Regions from separate parts of the Homo sapiens genome. Here regions 1 and 2 are each linked to region 3. The links come from fine-mapping of genetic effects on gene expression. A gene starts in region 3. Each other region holds a variant in brackets. All regions are shown on one strand. Distances are from middle to middle. Region 1 has its middle 65 kb from the start of MINAR1. Region 2 overlaps ANKRD34C-AS1 (ANKRD34C antisense RNA 1). Region 3 holds the start of TMED3 (transmembrane p24 trafficking protein 3).

Region 1 (4,243 bases), 190 kb after region 3:
GAATTAACCTTGGCAGGAAGAAAGAGAGAGAAGTGAACGCATACCAAGCACAGACTGGTGCCCCCAGTACCAGTCTTGGCACTCCTCCATTCTTTATCTCATTTATTTATTTATCTGAAATATAAATGATCTCATTTGACAGATAAGGAAATTTGGAATCAGAAAAGGTGCCTGGCCTCCCAAATCCACACAGCCAGAAGGTGACCAGGCAGGAGGCAGACCCATGCCTGTTGACTCCAAAGCCTGTGTGATTTCTTCCTTGACGTGCTGCCATTTACTGCTGGGGAAGTGGGAAGCAGGGGGAGGGGGAATGACCCAAGGATGTGGGAGGTGGAAGGGACAGGGAAGCTAGGAATTTCATCATTTGCTGAGAGAGACAGGGAAGGGGGTAAGAGAGAGGGTCTTCAATAGCTGGGGTGGGGAACTCAGCAGGGAGCGGGGTGGGGCAGGCTCCCTGGAGGGAGCGGGGTGGGGCATGAGGGAGGGGGGTGGGGCAGGCAGTGCCCAAGGCCCAGCTGACCAGGGGCTCATGGGGCCCAGTTTCTGCCTAACAAAAGGGCTCAGAGCCCCAGCCAGGAACTGGGGGCCTCAGACTCAGAGGTACAGGGGAGGAGCCGGGACATTGCCTCCATTAGGAATTACGGAGTCTCACTTGTCCCTTCTCCTATTTTGGCCAGGGTGTTTCTGTGTGTGTTTGTGAGTTTAAGTGTGTGACTGTGTGAGTATATGTAAAGTGGGAATATGTGTGAGTGTATATATCAGTGTGTGTTACTTTATGTGTGAGAGAATGTATTATGTGTTGTGTGTGAGTATATGTAATTGGTGTGTACGTGTGTGTGATTGGGAGTACATGTAAGTGTGTGTGACTTTGGATCTGTGTGAGTGTATGTGTGACTGTGTTATACATGTGAGATGTGTGTGAATATGTGTGAGAGTGTACATGTGTCTGTGAGTGTCCGTGAGTGTGCCTGGGTGGTTGTGTGTGTGTGGGTGTGACAGTGTGAGTATATGTAAGGGGGTGTGTGAGTGCATGCACTTGGCAAATGGGAAAAGAGAAGCTTCCCTGGGCCAGCAGCTGGAATGCAAATGCATCCCTCTGAAATAAATCAACTGTTTGCACCATGGGCCACAGAGTCAGGCTGGCCTTGAGCATTTAACAGGCTTCCAGAGGCTCTCAGGCTCTGCTCCCCATGACCTGGTGCTCAGGGTCACCCCTTAGCATGGCCCCAGCCCCCTGAGCACAAAGACATCTCCGTGCAGGACTGAAGGGACACCTTTAGGTGGGAACTAACTCTCATAGAATACATAGATGCCTGCCAATCACAGTTGGGACTCTTCAGTGGGGTCTCCTGGCCCAAAGTGTACCTGTTTGCTGCATGTCTGAGTCTGCATAGGAAATCCTGGTGCTCAAAGAGTTATAACCTCATTTTTTTTTTTTTGGTTAATGAAGTACAAGTGGCAGGGGTTGAATTAGAGAGAGAGAGAGGCACGGGGTGTAAACAAGAGTTTTCTTGTTTACCTATATAAGGGATGTACTTCACTCATTCATCTATTCATTCATTCACTCTACAGACTTTATTGAACCCATGTAACGGGCCAGGGACTATGCTAGATGCTGGGAATAAAGCAGGGAACATTCAGAAGCCATCCCTGCTTCATGGTATGAGGCTCAGGAAAGGCACACACACTCTCCTCTCCACATTTGTGTGTAGGAGAGGAGAGGTGCGCTTGGACCTCATAACAAAAGGCTCTAACTTAGCCCTGGGGGTTGGTGGGGGAGCAGTGATGTAGGTGACAAGGGCTTTCAAAGAAGAAGCACTTTTTGGGAGTGAGAACCACCTTTGTGCTCTCCAATGTGCCCCTGCCCGTGTAAGACACCCTGCCTTTGGGAGGCCATACCCACAGGGAAAAAGACCTGATGCCCCTGCCCCCTTACCTCTCAGGAGCAGAGCTGCAATGAGCCTCCATCTCAGGATGAGGCAACAGGCCAACACCAACCCAGGACCCCAGTCTCACCTCTTCTAACTCCAGCCCACAGGCAGTGACCTTTGACTCATTCATGCCCCTGGGATTTGAGGATTCCAATTGTGTTATGCCACCTCCTTGCACTGATCCACCCACTCTGTGGCTGGATTCAAAGCTGAGTCTAACTTGCTTTCACAGATCCCAAGATGAACTTTCCATCACCTATTCACTAAGGTTTTGAAAGCCACCAATATTGAGTCTACGGCCACGCCACCCTGAACACACCCGATCTCATCCAAAAGCCACCAATCTTGAGATCTTAGTATGTAATGACACTGTGTTAAACCCCTTATATACATTATTCATTCATTAATTCGACTGATTTTTATAAAGCAC[C/T]GACTATGTGCTAGGCAGGGTTCTAGATGCTGAGAATACAGTAGTGAACAAAGCACACAATATTTTTACCCTAATTTAGTGAGGAGACCCATGATACAAAAAGGAGACAATGAACATATAACATAGTATCAGATAGTGATAAGTGACATTTGTCTCATTTAATACATACTCCATCTTTAAAAAGTAGGTGGTTTTATACCCATTTTATAGAAATAGAAACTGAGACTTGAGGCTCTTCACTATCACATAGTCAAGCCATTGTCAAAGAATAAAATGTTGCTTTCATTTACTCTTCTCTCCTCTCTCTTTTCTTCCTACCATCCCTGCTTTAGAAAAGGTAGGAGGGGAATGCTAAGAGTACAGAATCTGAGGGCTGGAGGGGCAATGCCCTGAAGCCACCCTGGCCATTCTCCTGTCCCGGGGTGGGGCTGCCCTCACACTTAGACAGAAACCATCTCTTCTCATTCTTAATGAGAATGTCATGCAGAACCCAATCAATAAGAGGTTCTCTGACACTAGAACGTCTTTTGTTTTTTCTCCCCACCTCTTGTGCTGACAAATGCATTAATGTAAAAACAGAAAAGAAAACCAAGCAATTTGTCACAGTGATATCTTCCCTCCTGGCCTTCATAATGAATTGCAGTGGTTAATCAATCACTCCCTTAACTCTTCTGTGGAGGCTTCCTTTTTAATGGGCCCCCAGACTGGATCCTTGAATTTGCTGTTTCCACAGACTGTGCACACGCATTATGTGTGGACTCAAGTGCTCCATAAGGGAAGAAAAATTACATTTCTAAGTGTATGTTTTGGGCACTATGCTGATTCCTTTGGATGCATTATCTCATCTTCTCCCAATCATCCTTCATGGGTGATCTTACAGGGCTGAAGAAAGATGACGTTTGTAGGCTGAGGTGACACAGCTTGTCAGAAGCAGAGTTGCAATGTGAACCTAAGTTTATATTTCCAAAGCTTCAACATGAATCATCTGCATCCTAGTTAATATGATAACCCTGGTTCCTATCAATTCAATTCATGTCCTTACCAGATGTTTACAAGCTTGTTCTCAAGGGCATAAAAATGCTTTGATGTTCTCTAAATCCCCTAACCTTAATTCCTATCATGTGGCTTTGTCCTTAGGATGGGAGCATAACAACTCATCTTATCTTGCAAGTCATTTAAAACACAGACTTCATAAGCTCACAGAGGTCCTCAAGCTCACCTGAGTCCTCATGCTGCAAAGCCTCACACATTCTCCTGAACAGGAGGTGGCAAGAAAATGTTAAAGACTTTTAAAAATTCAACCATATCACATAAATTAATTTATCAAGATGCTGCTGCTATTGGCTTACGATATTGATCAGTGCTATAGAAGCTAGCAAGTGCTTTAAAAAAATTGATGAAAATTTATGTTCAGCACTTTCATTACTCGTCCTCAATAACACAGTTGCCAAAGTGATTTGAAGAAGACTCAGGAATTGAGTATATTCATGTTCAATTAGGTTAAATATTTCCCTTGTATTCACTACCCATTTGCACAGCAATCCAATCCAAAGGAACCAAAATGAACTGTCGCACATACCCAATTAATGTTGTTTTAATTCCGAGACAAATAGGATCACAGTGAATTTCAACAAACTGTCCAAATTCTTTTATGTGAGTGTGCTAGGATGACTGGTGTGTGGAATTAGTTGGCTGTGGGCTGGAGCTTAGCAATTGTTTATCAGGCAAAAGTTCTGGTTATCATAGTGCTTGCTGTTACAGGATGGGACCTGGGTGTCACATTTTCTGTACTTATGAAGAACCAGAGCAACACCAATAGGTGCCGGCTATAGACAGAACATGGGCTAACTTGGAACCTGTGTTTTTAAAATGTCCATCTCTA
Region 2 (4,243 bases), 80 kb before region 3:
TTATAATTTTACTGTAACCTGACATTTCTCTGTCAGACATGCAGTGAAAAGAACTCGGAGCTGGGACCGAGAGAGGAGACAGGTGTGGAAAGGTGGTGGAGTATAGAGGAACACGTAAATTCCCTCTCCATAAAATTAATAAAAAAATTGAAATAGAAGACACGCCAGCAAGGAATAAATTGGTAGCATTCAACTAAATAAAGGATTACAAGCTTTTACCATAAATTTGAAAGGTATCATCAGAGATAGAAGCTTCTAGAAGTCAAAGCAGAGGCTTTCTCCACTGTTACAAAGCAGCACTTCTGCCACACATCTCACTCTGAAACTTCTATTTGAAGGCAACTGATGGGAATAGGTGAGTGGGAAGCCTAGGAGAAAGGTGTGGAGTGTTTCTCCTAGGTCAATGCTTCTCAACAAGGGAAGACATTTGGCAATGTCTGGAGACATTCTTGGTTGTCACAACTGGAGGTATGGAGGGTGCTACTGGCATCTGGTGGATAGAGGACAGGGATGCTGCTAGACATCCTGCAATGCACAGGACAGACAGTGCTCCACAACAAAGAATTATTCAGTCCCAAATGTCAATAGTGTCAAGGTAAAGATCCTGCCTTAGATGTAGAAGCCCTTATCTTCATTCTGCAGATAAACTGTATTTACTAGGAGAGGAGGAACCATTTTGTTTTTCTATGACTATTTACTCTATGTTTAACTGGCTATTTAAACACTATATACCAACTGAGTCAAAACCCAGCTATTGGAAATTTTTCTTTGTCTTTGATTTTTGATAGTTTGGTTATTATATATCTCGGTGAACTCCTTTCTGGGTTGGATTTAATTGGAGATCTCTGTGCTTCCTGTACCTGGATGTTGGCGTCTTTTCCTATATTTGGAAAGTTTTCAGCTGTTATTTTTTAAAACATGCTTTCTGGCTCTTTTTCTCTCTTTTCTCCTTCAGCAACTTTTATTATGTGAATGTTGGGTCTCTTGATGGTATCCCATAATTCCTGGAGGCTTTCTTCATTCTTTTTTTATTATTTGACTGGATAATTTCAAATGTCCTATCTTCAAGCTCACTGGTTCTTTCTTCTATTTAATCAAAATTTCTGTTGAAGCTTTCTATTAAAATTTTCAGTTCAGTTATTATATTTTTTATCTCTATAATTTCTATTTTTTATTGTTTCAATTTCTCTGTTAAATTTCTCATTTTGTCTGTGTATTCTTTTCCAAATTTCATTTAATTTTCTCTGTATATATTCTTTTAGTTCCCTGACCTTCTTTAAGAGGGTTATTCTGAATTATTTTTCAGTCATTTTATAGATCTCCATTTCTTTGGGGTCCATTGTTGCAGCTTTAGTAGGGCTTTCTGGATGTGTCATGATTCCCCGATTCTTCATAATTCTTGTGTCCTGTTATGGTTTGAGCCCTCTAAAAGTCATACAGAAACTGAATTCCCAATACCAATAATATTAAGACCTGTGGCCTTTGGGAAGTGATTGAGTCATGAGGGCTTTGTCCTCATGAATGAGATTAGGACCCTTATAAAAGGGCTTGAGGTTGAAGGGAACATCCCCTTGCCTTTCTGCCTTCTGCCATATGAGGACACAGCAACAGGCGCCATCTTGGAAACAGACAGCAGCCCTCACCAGAAACCAATGCCAGCTTCTTGATCTTAAA[C/T]GTCACAGCCTCCATATTTACAGCCTGCTAATTTTTGTATTTTTAGTAGGGACAGGCTTTCTCCATGTTGGCCAGGCTGGTCTTGAACTCCTGACCTCAAGTGATCCACCCCCATCAAGCCTCCCAAAGTACTGGGATCACAGGCATGAGCCACAGTACCAAGCTCTATGGTGCTTCTTAAACTGTTGCCAGAGATGGGAGAATCTTACACCACACTATACCAAACTCTGATACAAATGAAAGATAGAAAAAAGAAGGGAAAAAAGAAGAATTTACAGATTAATCTCAATTATGACAACCAATGCAAAAATCCTAAATAAAATATCAGCAGAGAGAAAGCATAAGACACTAAAAGAAAGATACACAAAGATAAATAAAGCCCAAGAATGTAAGCATGGCTCAATACTAGAAAATCTGATGCCAAAGAACTCATTTGCCATTGCTCAATCTTCATTTTAGGTTTTTAAAAAAATTAATAAAATAGATACTTCCTTAGCATTACAAAAATTTATAATCCTCCACCCCAAACAATCACAACTTAATGTAAAAAGCCAAAAGCATTCCCATTAAAGTCAGAAATAAGAACTCCTATTATCATACATGAGAAAGACATAAGAGGTAAAAAATTTAGAAAGGAAAAAGCACCTGGTTATAAATTTATATCAAAAATCAAACCTTCATTATTAGTAACCAGTTAGAAAATTTAACAAAAGATGTGTTAGTCCATTCTTGCATTACTATAAAGAAATACCGGAAGCTGGGAAGTTATAAAGAAAAGAGGTTTAATTGTCTCACAGTTCTGCAGGCTGTACAAGAAGCCTGGCACCAGCATCTGCTTGTCTTTTGGGCAGGCCTCAGGGAGCTTACATCATGGCTGATGGTGAAGGGGAGCCAGTGGTGTCACATGGTGAGAGCAGAAGCAAGAGAGAGAGAGAGGGGAGGGGCCACACACTTCTAAACAGCTGGATCTCGCATGAACTCAGAGGAAGAACTCACTCACTCATCGCCAAGGGGATGGTGGGTGCTAAGCCATTCGTGAGGATCTGCCCCCATAATACAATTACCTCTCACCAGGACCCTCCTCCAACACTTAGGTATTACATTTCAACATGAGATTCGGAGGGGACAAACACACAAACCATATCAGAAGAAAAGATGCCTTTTACAATAGAAACAAACTAAATATTTAGGGACAAATCTAATAATCAATGTTAGGGCCCTATGCTAAAAACTTTAAATTCCTATTAAAAGCCAGAAAAAATAATTCAGTCAGTGAAAACCTCCCTTGATTTTCTTTAGAAGAGTACTCAATAGAGCAGTTTCAATTTCTGAATGTAATCTCTAAATTCAGTGTGTTTCCAATCCAATTACCAAGAGAATTTTGTTTGAAATTTGGTAAGTTAAACTAAATTTTATCTGGTAGAATGAACACATAATTGGAATCAGAAAAAAAATTAAAAAATAAGAATAATGAACATGACTATGATACTATCAGGTATCAAAACATTGTCATAACCCACACAATAAAATACAAAAACAAAGACAAAACAAAAACATTGTTTAAAGCTACAGATATTTAATACAATATAATTTTAGGGCAGAAATAAACTAAGAGACCAGTGTAAGAAAATAGAGAGTCCAAAAATGAATTCAAGCACATATGGGAATTGAGTATTTGATTAAAATGGCATCGTTAAATTTATCAGCAAGGATGGGTTATTCCATAAACGGTGTTGAGAAAACTGGTTAGTTATTTGAAGGGGGAAAAATTGGATTTCTTACCTCATTCTTCATGTGCAAATAAATTCCATATGGATCCAAGAGTTAAATATAAAAATGAAACCATTAAAGCTAAATTAAAAGAATGATTACAGAGTAGTTCGCATAACTCTGCAAACAAATTTTAAAACTTGGATAAGAACAAAGGTGAATTTTTACAGCCTTAAGAGTATGATAAAAAACACTAGGAGACATATCCTCCCAGGGGACTGTGGGCCGAAAGAAGGCCTGCCAGGTGAATCATGAAGGCTGAGTTGAGGCCAGGTAGGTAGACAGGTGGGAATGTGTTCCAGCACAAGCTGGCCCCTAAAATGCCCTTCCCCATCATCCTTTGTTAAGCAAGATCCGCTTTCCCAGCTATTACCTGAAGCAGACATGCATGTAGTAAATAGTAGGCACAAATAGTTAGCAAGTACTAATACTGCTAAAAGACAACCTGAAAAGACAGACAAATCGGCTGTTAAAAATGACAAGAGGCCAGGCACAGTGGCTCATGCCTGTAATCCCAGTACTTTGGGAGGCCGAGGCGGGCGGATCACGAGGTCAGGAGATCAAGACCATCCTGGCTAACACAGTACAACACAGTGAAACCCCGTCTCTACTAAAAATACAAAAAAATAGCCAGGTGTGGTGGTGGGTGCCTGTAGTCCCAGCTACTCGGGAGTCTGAGGCAGGAGAATGGCGTGAACCTGGGAGGTGGAGCTGACAGTGAGCTGAGATCACGTCACTGCAGTCCATCCTGGGCAACAGAGCGAGACTCTGTCTCAAAAAAAAAAAAAGACAAGAAATA
Region 3 (4,243 bases):
CTGGATACTATAGAAGATGGCTTAACAGCCATAATTCCTTCCATCCCAGTATGACCCTCCTTTGCAATGTGACTTTGCAACTCCTCAAATCCAGAGGTAGATTCCATTTTTCCACCTCCTTGAATCTGGGCTGGCCTTTGAACTTGCTTTGGTCAACAGAATGTGGAGAAAGTCATACTGGAAAAGGTCTGAAGCTTAGGTCTCAGGGGCCTTGCTCCTTCTGCCTAGTTCCTCTTGGGATGCTGCCCTGAACCTGCCATATAAGGAAGTAATCTAGCCTATTAGATGTAAGAGGATGCTTGGAGGAGAACCGAGGTGTCCCAGCCAACAGCCTGCATGCTCTGACTAGAGCTTCTTCAATGTCAGCTCCTCCCCTGAACTTATGCAGGTGTTTTCTTGGAACTTAAATGTAAGACTTAACATTTAATCCGGAGGAATTTATTTTGATTTTTAGAGATGGGGTCTCCCTTTGTCATCCATGCTGGAGTGCAGTAGTGCAATCACAGTTCACTGTAGCCTCAGACACCTGGTGTCAAGCAATCCTCCCACCTCAGCATCCCAAGTAGCTGGGACTACAGACCCACACCACCATGCCTGGTTAATTTTTGTTTGTTTGTTTTTGTAGAAACGAGGTTTCACTATGTTGCCCAGGCTAGATTCGAACTCCTGGCTTCAAACAATCCTCCTGCCTCAGCCTCCCCAAATACTGGGATACAGGCATGAGCTATGGTGCCCAGCCCGAAATTTCTTTTTGTTAGTCTTAGCAGAGCACTCCACCTGTGCCAGGGCAATCGTGTTTTTTTTTTGTTTGTTTGTTTTGTTTTTTTGAGACGCAGTCTTGCTCTGTCGCCAGGTTGCAAACTCCACCTCCCAGGTTCAAGCAATACCCCTGCCTCCCTGCCTCAGCCTCCCGAGTAGCTGGGACTACAGGCACGCACCACCACCCCCAGCTAATTTTTGTATTTTTAGTCGAGAAGGGGTTTCACCACATTGGCCAGGATGATCTCGATCTCTTGACCTCGTGATCCACCCGCCTCAGCCTCCCAAAGTGCTGGGATTACAGGCGTGAGCCACCACTCCCGGCCAATTGTGGTTTTATATCTGTCATTTATTTCTCCACTTAGTTCATCTAGATCAGATGATTATTACTTCCATGTTTTCTATCAGTTCCTAAAAAAAAAAAAAACGTGAAATAGGACCGTGCCAGGGAAGGAAGCTTAAGGGACACTACTAAACACCTCTTCCATGCCTGTCACTGAGCCAGTCAATATTATTAACTATGTTATGCATGCATGTTATTTCCAAGCCTACAGATTGCTTTCACACATTAGCGTGTTCATCCATAGTGAATGTGGCCAGCGGAAATCTATATGGGCAGTAACATTCTTTCCTGAAGTCAAGATATACCACGTCTAGTAATGCTCTCCTGAATAAGTTATTTATTGAGTATCGACATCACAATCTACGTCTTTTCTCTTTGTTTATTGGATCACAGTGAATATAAAACTATACCTATAGTTACGATTATACAAAAGAATCTTAAGTCAGTGGTCATGGGTAAGACAGTAAACCAATTTATCTGCTTTCAGAGCTTTTAAGAAGTCAAAGTGCAAAAATGACAGTTTTGTGCAAAAAGAATTTTCAACGAGCCTGACAGCCAAAATATACCTGAAGTCGCTGCGAGACTTTACTTGGATTTTCATGAGATCGTTTGTGTGTGAGCACGCTCGTGTTTTTCCCAGAGCAGGTGTAATGATGGGTCTTTACTTACTCTCCCCACTCCCCACCCCCTTCGCACACTCTTTCACCTTGGGAAGGGTATGGGAATGAAGAAAGGAGTGTTAATCGGGTTCCCAGCGTTCCCTTATCTTTCACCTAGCTCCCTAACTACTGTGGATGTTAGGTTTGGGCACACCCATTTCAAGACAAGGAGACTGGTTCTCGAGGGAAGTGTGAGACTGAAGTTACAGAGCCTGTCAAAAGCGGAGCCTTATAGAGGGAGTAAAATCCCACGTGCTTCGTGCTGCAGCAGCTGGAGGGTGGACCTGGGTCGACCTGGGGGGATGCTCAGCCCTGCGGGTCCGGGAGCGCGCAGAACAGCGGGGAGGGCTTCTCCCTCTTCTGGGTAGGGGCGCGCTAGGTGGAGCCCCACCTCCCCTCCGCGGAGACCCACCCTCCGAGCCGGGAGAGGCGTTGCGGGGGGGTGGGGGGGGCGTGTCCCCTGGCGCAGCGCGGCCAGCGCGCACGCGCAGCGGGCGGAAGGTGCCCGGGCCCACTTTGAGCGCGCGGCTGCGCACTGAGCCGCCGGCCCTCCCGGAAGCGCAGAGCTCCGCTGGTGCCACGTCTATCCCCTTACATCCTCCTAGGACCCGGTCGGTAGTCGTCGCCCCAGCCCGCCGGGGGCGCAGCGCCCGAGCCGCGGCCCTCGAGACGGGACCGAGAGCATCATGGGCAGCACTGTCCCGCGCTCCGCCTCCGTGCTGCTTCTGCTGCTGCTCCTGCGCCGGGCCGAGCAGCCCTGCGGGGCCGAGCTCACCTTCGAGCTGCCGGACAACGCCAAGCAGTGCTTCCACGAGGAGGTGGAGCAGGGCGTGAAGTTCTCCCTGGATTACCAGGTGAGGCCGGGCGCCCGGCAGCGCTCCCTTCTCCCTCCACTCCCAGGTCTCACCTGGACACTGGCTAGCCCCTGACTGGAGGCGCTCGAATTAGCCACAGGCTACAGGGAGGCTGCATGGGGTGGGAGTCCCCGGAGACCAGTTGACTTCCCCGTGAGGAGGAAGGTTTGGGTCATCAGGGCCCACCCGAGACGAGCCTGGCCAGCGAGGAGGTAGTCAGCGCCGCAGGTGCGAGCCCGGGATGGGGACGCCAGGGCGGATCCCGCAGCCTGGGGAGCTGGCCAAAGAGATATCCGCAGGCCCCCGAGACACTAACCAACGGCAGTTCTGATCGGCTGGACACAGGCTCTCTAACCCCAGTCTCTTAGACCACCTTGTGCCTTCGAGTACTGAAAAATGGCAGCAAGAGGAAGTGGGCTCATAGTTTTAGTTTATTCCTCCCCTCTCCAGCGTTTAAAGTTGGAGTGAGGTGAGGGCAGCAGAAGTGAGAATGGGCACTTTGGAAAGGAGGGATCAGTGCAGCCATTGAGGCCTGGCGGTGTTTACAAGGAGCGGTGTGGCTGCAAGACTTGGCTCTTGCCATATGGCTTAGAAAAGCTCAGTTCCTGTATTCCTGTCTCCTTTGAGAGATCCCGTGGCCCACAGGTGACAGGAGCAGGTCTTGAGTGAGTAGTCTGCCCCGATATTTAGTGAGCAGGTCTAGGGTTGGGGGCCAAGTGGGCATCATACTCAGACAGCTATCTGCTTGTGGACGCATGCTGATAGGCACTTCAGAAATGAGGGGCCACGGGCAGCAGGAATGGGGGCAAGCTATTTGACCAGTTCCTCTGTGGTTAGAGGCACTGAAGGAAGCTTGCGCTTGGAGACAACTTCTATGTGGTAGTCTCAGTCACTGATTTGTCCACTTTCAGGTCTTTGTGGACAACATGCAAATTGTGACTGGGTTAACATGGGCAACCTAGGTGCAATGACAAAAAGAATGATAATTCTGTGGTTGCAGGGACCTCAGATGTCATCTGGTCACTGCCAGGGCGGAAATCCCTTGTCAAAGTGTGTCCAGCCTGGGTTTAAACACACTTAGCAACAGGATACTCACTGCTTTTTGCAAAGCTTGCTGAGCAGGACTAGTAACTTTTGTCCGGACAAAGAGGCCATTTAAATTTGGAAGCAGATGGAGGCCATTGACCGTGTCCTTTGATGGATCTTGGTTATAGCCATTGCCTACCTGTGAGATTTTGCTTTATGTGGGTCTTATTTTTCTTATGTTACAAGGAGAGTTTGAACTAAATGATTCCCAAAGACTCTTCCACCGCTGACACTCAGAAATTCCATGAATACTTCGATCAATATTTTTCTTCTCCTTGCATTCAGTCATTAATAATATATTGTTAATAGCTACTTGACCCATTCAGCAAGCCAAGAATGACCCTTGCTGGTGGGGGGAGGGGGAACACCTGTCTGTTATTGGAACGGAGAAGCAGGAGGTGCAGCATGCATGCTCTAGGGTGGCCCCCAAATCAGATCCCACATCTCCACTGCAACCCCAGGGGGTTAGTTTGCAGTCTGACGATTGTCCAGTAATTGGCTGGCACTTTTGGGGCCCTTGCTAAATTTATGTTGGACACCGT

What was found. PIP is the estimated chance that this variant, and not a neighbour inherited with it, causes the effect.
Region 1: its variant is the best candidate, but not a certain one, in a credible set for the expression of TMED3 in whole blood (INTERVAL, PIP 0.85).
Region 2: its variant is the best candidate, but not a certain one, in a credible set for the expression of TMED3 in tibial artery (GTEx, PIP 0.84).

Annotation. Positions count from the first base shown.
Region 1 is chr15:79,494,972-79,499,214 of GRCh38, forward strand. No RefSeq gene overlaps it. Among named protein-coding and RNA genes, the nearest start is that of MINAR1, 65 kb to the left of the region's middle. The variant C/T (reference allele first, on the strand shown) is at 2,362.
Region 2 is chr15:79,228,360-79,232,602 of GRCh38, forward strand. The region is part of intron 1 of ANKRD34C-AS1 (ANKRD34C antisense RNA 1); the gene reads right to left. Among named protein-coding and RNA genes, the nearest start is that of MIR184, 21 kb to the left of the region's middle. The variant C/T (reference allele first, on the strand shown) is at 1,675.
Region 3 is chr15:79,308,803-79,313,045 of GRCh38, forward strand. It overlaps TMED3 (transmembrane p24 trafficking protein 3), which reads left to right and starts at 2,310. Exons shown (of 3, transcript NM_007364.4): 1 at 2,310-2,615. The coding sequence starts at 2,448. RefSeq lists silencers at 2,154-2,203, 2,414-2,483.